Regions from separate parts of the Homo sapiens genome. Here region 1 is reported to be linked to region 2. Evidence: microRNA targets listed by miRTarBase, many of them from high-throughput screens and not tested one by one. Region 2 holds a microRNA gene; the other region holds the end of a gene's coding sequence.
Evidence for each region. Region 2 holds the annotated microRNA hsa-miR-4755-5p (UUUCCCUUCAGAGCCUGGCUUU, at 1,943-1,964, shown strand). A microRNA usually pairs through its seed, bases 2 to 8, with sites in the 3' UTR of a target mRNA and lowers its output. Matches are read on the target gene's strand: a 7mer-m8 pairs with bases 2 to 8, a 7mer-A1 pairs with bases 2 to 7 and ends in A, and an 8mer does both.

Region 1: the mRNA of CHCHD5 is a reported target of hsa-miR-4755-5p. The part of its 3' UTR that is shown has no 7-base or 8-base seed match.

Annotation. Positions count from the first base shown.
Region 1 is chr2:112,588,126-112,592,190 of GRCh38, reverse strand. CHCHD5 (coiled-coil-helix-coiled-coil-helix domain containing 5) reads right to left here. Exons shown (of 4, transcript NM_032309.4): 4 at 3,151-3,325. The coding sequence ends at 3,302. Among named protein-coding and RNA genes, the nearest start is that of CHCHD5, 5.5 kb to the right of the region's middle.
Region 2 is chr20:34,047,186-34,051,250 of GRCh38, forward strand. It overlaps MIR4755 (microRNA 4755), which reads left to right and starts at 1,934; the gene lies at 1,934-2,005. All of the region lies in intron 2 of RALY (RALY heterogeneous nuclear ribonucleoprotein), which reads left to right.

The sequences.
Region 1 (4,065 bases), not on the chromosome of region 2:
AGAAGAAACACTATGAAGTTGTTGCAGTAATTTAAATATAGGCACAATTTTTTTGCAGCCAAATGCTATCAAGAAGTAAAGTCTCCCCATCTCTTTAATCTCAGCTGGGCTCATGACTGCTTTGACCAATAGAATGTGGTAAAAGTGATGTCTGAAGTTTCCATTTTCACTCTCTTGGACCCCTGAGACCATCATATAAAGAAGCTAGTCTAGCCTATTGTAAGACAGGACACATAGAGATGTTCTAAAGTGTAGTCTGGATCTCCATTTTGTCTGTTTTAATCACACTTCTTTTAGTTGCATGGCATAGAACCCCACTCAAGCTTACTCAAGCAAGTGGAGTGGGCTGAAAACATCCACCACAGCCCATGGAAACTAGAGATGGAAACAAAAAGCCACCAGGATCCAGACCCTTTCAGGGACAGGAACTTGCAGGGAGCCAAAGGCCTGTGGGATGTGACCAACTCAGCATTCCACTGGGGCTATATGATCAAACAGCAAACTGTTTACCATTAATACAGAATGTGGACAAACTCACTTCTGTGCCTGCCCCAGAAGGTTTGATGAGGGCAGTCGCTTCCTGGCGCCGAGCTCCTTGAGGTTATCTACTGCGACATCTAGGGAATGCAGTCTTGCAAGCCTACTCTGGACAAGCTGACCTCTTCTTCTACCTGCCTTCTCGCTATCTCTTTTGCCTAATAAATACAGAAAGCTGTGTAAAGCTCAGGGCCCTTGTCCACTAGAGGCAAGGTGCCCCCTGACCCCTTCTTCCAAATATACTCTTTTGTCTCTTGTCTTTTATTCCTGCATTCGCCACCCTTTCTTCAGTCCACCAGGGATTGTGGCAGGTTACAGGAACTGATCACAATTCTCTCTCCACTACCTGGGTTTCCTCCTAGCTCAGACAAATGGTATAAAATCTTGCAACCCTGAACTTACAGGATTTCTACCCGGCTCCTAAACCAATGAACAACTTCCTTTGTCTTGGAGATTAATCCCTAGGAGAGACTCCCATAGGCCAGGCTCATTCTTCCAAGCCGAGCATAATCCTTGGGTATCAAATGGCCAGTTACTCCAATTTCCAGAGGTTTGGGATCACCTCCAGGGAGGAGGGCCTCGTCTGAATGGTGAATGTGGGTGCAGGCCATGGGCATGCTCAGCTCAGCACTCTGGGGTCTCCTCCTCTATTGCATACACGCCTGTCTGCTTTCTATTCTTTAGGACCAGTCCCTACTGGGGAGCCTGTATCAAACAGCAGGAGCCTGTATTCCTGAGAAGCATGAAGAAGCCACAGCAGCCACTGTTGGTACCTGCCCAGATCCACTCAGCATCTCTTCCGCAGGTTTAAGGCTGCTCACTTGATCCCATTATACTCTGCTTACGGCCCTCTTCTGATGGCAGAAGTGAACTTGGCCTATAAAGGGCAGGCCAGAAGTACCAGTCAATGCCCATGAAAATACCCCTTAATGACAGATGGGAAGTTGGTAGATAACACAATTCCCTTGCTCCTTGATAGGGTAACTGGGTTATGTTCTATAAAGTCCCCCACAGGTCCCCAGTGGGACTGAGTCCCAGTTGCCCAGAGTGGTAACTCGCTTGATAATGCACCTTTTATTGGCTGCCTTCCTCTCTATTGTCTCCCTTCTCCATTCCTCTATCAGTGTTTCTGGAATCAAATTCAAATTACCATCTGCACTCAAATTCTGAGTTGGCTTCTGGAAAACTGGAAACTAAGAACAGAAATCCAGTGCATAGACCAGAAGCGGTGGCTCACACCTATAATCCCAGCACTTTGGGAGGCTGAGGTGGGCAGATCACCTGAGGTCAGGAGTTACAGACCAGCCTGACCAACATGGTGAAACCCCGTCTCTACTAGAAATACAAAAATTAGCCGGGCATGGCGGCCGGTGCCTGTAATCCCAGCACTTCGGGAGGCTGAGGCGGGCAGATCACCTGAGGTCAGGAGTTTGAGACCAGCCTGACCAACATGGTGAAACCCCATCTCTACTAGAAATACAAAAATTAGCCAGGCATGGTGGCGGATATCTGTAATCCCAGCTACTCAGGAGGCTGAGGCAGGAGAATTGCTTGAACTCAGGAGGCAGAGGTTGCAGTGAGCCGAGATCACGCCATTGCACTCCAGCCTGGGCAACAAGAGTGAAACTCCGTCTTGAAAAAAAAAAAAAAAAAAGAAGAAAGAAAGAAAAGAAATCCAGTACATGGCCTTCTAAGCCATACATCCTTCCATGTGGTTGTTTTCAATAATAAAGCCAGTATTTTCATCTCCATTGCCTAATGCCTCTGTTGCCCAGTTGATTCTGAATTCAGCAGGGAAAGACGCATATTATTTATCACCCCCCAAGCCTCCAGAAAACTGAAAACAGATTTGGAGAATGCAGCCAGGCACTGTGTCAAGTGCTTACGGTAGTGCTAGCTACTGTGGAGGCTGAGGCAGAGGATCACTGGAGCCCAGGAGTTCGAGGCTGCAGTAAGCTATTATCGCACCACTGTACTCCAGCCTGGGCAACAGAGCAAGACGTTGTCTTTAAAATATATATATAGGCTGCGCGTGGTGGCTCACGCCTGTAATCCCAGCAATTTGGGAGGCCGAGGTGGGCAGATCACGAGGTCAGGAGATCGAGACCATCCTGGCTAACACGGTGAAACCCTGTCTCTACTAAAAAAAAAAAAAAAAAAAATTAGCCAGGCGAGGTGGCGGGCGCCTGTAGTCCCAGCTACTAGGGAGGCTGAGGCAGGAGAATGGCACGAACCCCGGGGGGCGGAGCCTACAGTGAGCCGAGATCGTGCCACTGCACTCCAACCTGGGCGACAGCGAGACTCTGTCTCAAAAAAAAATAAAAATAAAAATAAAATAAAAAATATATATATTAAAAAAAAATAACAATTTGGGGAATGCTAGAGTGGAAGGGATTGAGGGTCTTTACCCCAGGCACATGCAGCAGAAGTCAGGAAATGGCTGTGTGGCAGAGTTCACAAGGGAGGCAGGGTAGTCTCAACCCTGGGGCACAGCTGCAGAGTCCTGTTCTTCCCAGGCACTTCCTTGGCACACCCGGTGAAGCTGGGGAACAGATGACTCTGCCCAGCCAGCTCTCCTAGGACCCTCTCAGGTACGGATGGCAGGAATCAAAGCCCAGTATACAGAGTCTTTATTTATTGGAAGTCCTGATATCCAGGAAAGCCGGGCCCATGTCCAGGGCTCAGGACTCCATCTGGCCACTCTGCAGGGGAGGGGCGTGGGGGCAGTCATTCATGTCCAGTTTTCCTGCCGTCAGAGGAGTCCTCAGGAGGCAGGAAGTGGCTGTGCCTGTGGAGAAAGTACATCAACATCTAGTAGCACCTCCTCTGTGCCCAGCCTGGGGAGCCTATGTAGACACCACAGAGGGAGACCCTGCAGAGCCCACAGTCTGGAGGGAGAAGGGTGTTGGGCAATGACCTTGGCCCTGAGCCATGTGAAAAAGTCAGCTGTGGTGAAGTGTCATGGGAGGCAGGGAACGCGCCATTCTGCTATATTTACTGAGCACCTGCCGTGTACCCAGCAGGCAAAACTCTCTGACTCAAGCAGGGAGAGACGGACAATAAATATGTCAACATCCAAGAAATTCGATGAAGAAAATTTAATCAGGGTAAAGAGCAGAGGTGTGTGCGGAATGGGAGGGACATGTACCACTTTGATTGTCAGCCACAAAAACACAGGACATTCTGTAAAGTCTGTATGCCATGCTGCAGGAGATGAGAATGTTTGTGTTCGCTATTGTGTAGACCAGACAACAAATCTCACTGCCCCTAGCTAGGAAGGAAAAACTGTAACTGGGATGCCATCCCCAGGAAGGAGGGGATGATGAGGAGATGTGACCTAATTCCCTTTTTTTTTTTTTTTTGGAAGACAGAGTCTCGCTCTATCGCCCAGGCTAGAGTGCAATGGTGCAATCTTGGCTCACTGCAACCTCTGCCTCCTGGGTTCAAGCAATTCTCCTGCCTCAGCCTCCCAAGTAGCTGGGATTACAGGTACCTGCCACCACACCTGGCTAATATTTGTATTTTTAG
Region 2 (4,065 bases):
ACCTGACTTGCTAATCTGCTGACCTTGGAAAATGTGTCTTTGTTGAATACAGAGCAGTAGTACCTGGGCTGGCCCTGTGTGACTTAGAGCGGACAGTATGGGAGGTGGAGAACTGGGTGCATGGGAGCCATTAGATCAAGAATTGGAAATTCCTCACAAATAAAAGGTTTCTGGGGTAGGAGCAGGGGGCAGTGTTGATGGTGACTCTGCTTGGATTATCTTCTAGGGATGGAGGATTGCCAGCTCCATTGAATGGAAGGACTGGTGATGCGCAGCCACTCTTGCATGTGCCCGGGCAAAAGACAGTGTGTTGGTGGCAAATGCCTAATGTGTCTATGGCTGACCATGGGCCATCTCTGCCATTCAAGACATCAGCTCCTGGCAGAGTTGTATTGGTTTGATAGAGCTTTAGTCTTCGGAGTCGCACAGACCTGAGTTCAAATCCTTCTCTGCCATTTACTGTAATAATTGTGTTCCTTAGGCTGATCCTTTAGCTCTCAGATCCTCTTTTTCCTTTTCTCTAAAATGATGTGGTTGATATCTGCTTTTGAGGTTGTGAGGATTTAAAATAACAGGTAAATAGGTGCCACACAGTACCAGATACTTAGTTGGGTGAGTAGCCTGGTGATCTGTGGCTGTTAGCTCTTTGAAGGCCAGTATCCCTAGGAGATAGCAGCAACGTCAGCACTGCTCTGATTCCCTGACCAACCCCCAACCCCACCTTTGCCCTCAGAAATACCCTGGACCCTTGTTTCCTTCCTCAAGTTCAGACCCCAGAAATGTTGGGCAAGAAGGAGCCTCCAGGCCAGGCTTTATTGTGCCAGATGTTATATCTGAGTAAGCAGGATTGTTACACAGCAGAGATACAGGAGCAGAGCAGGTAGCTCAGGCAGCTGCTGATGAACAAAAGGCTTCTTCTCTCTGTTCCCAATAAATTGGTCCTTGGGGATCCTAGCTTTGAAATTCTAATTGACACAGGAAGGAAAAGATTCATTAGGCTCTGGACTCGTTAAAATGCTCTGCTGCTCACCTACGATTTATTCTTGGCACTTCATCAAGAGGAATTAAGTAAACCAATGGGCTGGGAGGCTCCTGACAGCAGAGTCGTGTGTCTCTCGTGCTCCTGGGGGGATGAGAGTGTTGGGTCTCCTATGCTATGGAGCATATAGCTGGCTTTGGAATCTCCTCATCCCTAGGACTTCACATGAGTCTAAGTCTCATATGCTTTTAACAATGGAGGGACCTTCTGAGATCATACTGTGTAACTCATTTATAGATGGTCCAAAGAAGAACTGGGACTTGCTCAAGATCACGAAACGCATTAGTAGTGGAGTTAGAATTAGAATCAGTCAGGCTGCATGACTTCCAGGTCAAGAATATTTTCTCTGCGGCCGGGCGTGGTGGCTCACGCCTGTAATCCCAGCACTTTGGGAGGCTGAGGCAGGTGGATCACGAGGTCAGGAGATCAAGACCATCCTGGCTAACACGGTGAAACTCCATCTCCACTAAAAATACAAAAAATTAGCCGGGCGTGGTGGCGGGCGCCTGTAGTCCCAGCTACTCGGGAAGCTGAGGCAGGAGAATGGCGTGAACCCTGGAGGCAGAGCTTGCAGTGAGCCGAGATCGCACCACTGCACTCTAGCCTGGGAGACAGCGAGACTCCGTCTCAAAAAAAAAAAAAAAAAATTTTCTCTGCATCACCTTTGGATTTCTACACCCAGTGTTTCATTCATTCAGCCTTCAACAGATACTTTTAACACATTCTGTGTGCCAGGACTCTGTGATAAACAAAACAGCCATGGAGGAAAGTAAATACCTGACCCAGTATTAGGAGAGATTAGAAAGGCCTCCAAGTCTGAGAGATGGATAGGAATTAGCTCAGCAAGGAGAGATGAGGAAGGTTATGGCTGAGGAACTGGCATCTATGAAAGCCAGATTCAGCTTTCCCTTCAGAGCCTGGCTTTGGCATCTATGAAAGCCAGGCTCTGAAGGGAAAGTTGAATCTTGCTAGAGTGGAGAATTGAGGAAGAGATGAGATGTTAAGGCAAGCCGAGTCTATGAGGTTTGGGCCACTGTATGGTTGTAAAGAACCCTGGATCTGGGATTAGGAGTCCTGAGTTCTAGATATGTTTCTGCTACCAATATGTTAGTCATCATTCTAGTAACACTTCACATCTTTTAGGTGTGCCATGATGGGCACTGGGGTACAAAAATGTGTAAGATGTATGTAGTCCCCTCCCTCAGAGATCTGTCAGTTTAATGAGGCAAGCAGGCTAATTAAGAACCCCTGTAGTAAAGGAACAGTTACCTCTGCTGTAAGAAGTCAGAATTGAGCTGTGTGTTACTTTAAGCACTTTCTCTGGGCTTTGATGATCTCACCTGTCAAATGGTAAATAACCACTGTCCTATGTAGCTGGTAAACTGATGAGAAGACAGACAACTTTGTAATGATTGGCGTTTGTTTGGCATTTTGTGGATTTCAAAACACTTTTGACATCATTAATTCATTGAACCTTAACTGCAATCTTATGACTTAGGAAATTTCCCCACAATGTACAGATGAGGAAACTGAGAGAGGTTGAGGCTTGTTCATAGTTTCACAGCTTTTGATTAACAAAAGTTAGGATTATAAATCCAAATCCCGTGCTCTTATTTTGAAAAGTATAAAGATGGCAACCTTTCTTTCTATCCCCTACTTAGTGGCAAATTATCCCCTTCCCCTTTTCACAGTCACCAGAAATGCAGAGAATGTCTGCTGTGTTTGAAAAGCAGATCTAAGCTGACTGGGGAGAAAGAAAGGAGCTTATTTCAGGTCTTCTTCAGGCTGGACTCTAAACTTTTAAGATCATGTGCGCCCGTGCTCCCATCAGCTCCTGCTGTTCCATCTCATGCCATTTACAGAGTGCCATTTACTGAGCCACTACTTCATTGGCTACTCATAGCAACTTGTGGGGTAGACAAAGTGCACTTTACAGATGGGCAAACTGAGGTCCAGAGTCCCTGAATTGTACATGTCAGAACCAGGATTGAATCTAGAAGTCTTGGGCTCCTGACACCAAACAGGTGCTCTTAACTTGCAGAATGTAGGTTCCTTTGATTCAGTTCGGTTCAAACAATTCTTGAATATAACCCATGTGCCAGAGACTTTGCTATGCAAGAGAGCCTCTAGTTAGGCTCAAACCGTCTTGGTCTAGTGCCTTACTTAAGAACAGGGACTTGTATTATTTACTTCTCTGTCCCCAGGCAGGACCTTGATCCAAAAATGCTTTGCTGTTGTTTTTGGCCTTAATCTGCCAGAAACTAGAGGGAGCAGATGGCCACAGCAATGTGGGTTATGAGGATGTGATATCAGGCAGGGTTGAAGGATGAATTGAGAGCCCTGCACCCAACTACTTCTGTGTCTGTGCCTAGGCCCTTGTCAGGGTAGTCTCTATCTGAGAGTGTAGCTGGTCAGCCTGGTCCCATTTCTCATTTCCAGTCACCTCCCCCTCTTGCCATCCCATATAATGGGGTTAGTCTCCTGGACAGATCTCATACAGAGGCTGCTGGGATCTGCTGTCCAAATGACCCTTTGGACCTATTTCCCAGCCATGTTCCAAGATGATGGTGAGGAGTCTAGCCCCACAGCCAGTATGCTATCTCTATTCAGATAACTCCCAGCTCACAGGCCTCCCACCAGGCTCTCACCCACTCTGATGTTTTCACTCCTGACTCCTAAGAAGCAGATTGGCAATTTAGTGTGAGTCTGTCAGACAGCCTAGAGAGTAATCAATACTGAGAGAAATGGACATATTTCCTGTTTATTCAAAATCCTGATGAAAATTTTAAGGAGCACTATTTGGGAAGGGATGACTGGGAACCTTGCAAGAACAAACAGCTTAAAATTCATGAACAGAAATAGCAACGTTTATTCATGATGTTTCAAATGCCCCTAATATTCACATCTTTATATATTACAGACCCCTTTCATACGTGTTACTGCTTTTGAACCTTAGAGCAACTCTGTGAGGGAAGCAGTGTAAGGATTACTATTCCCACTTGACAGTTGAGGAAACTAAGGCCCAG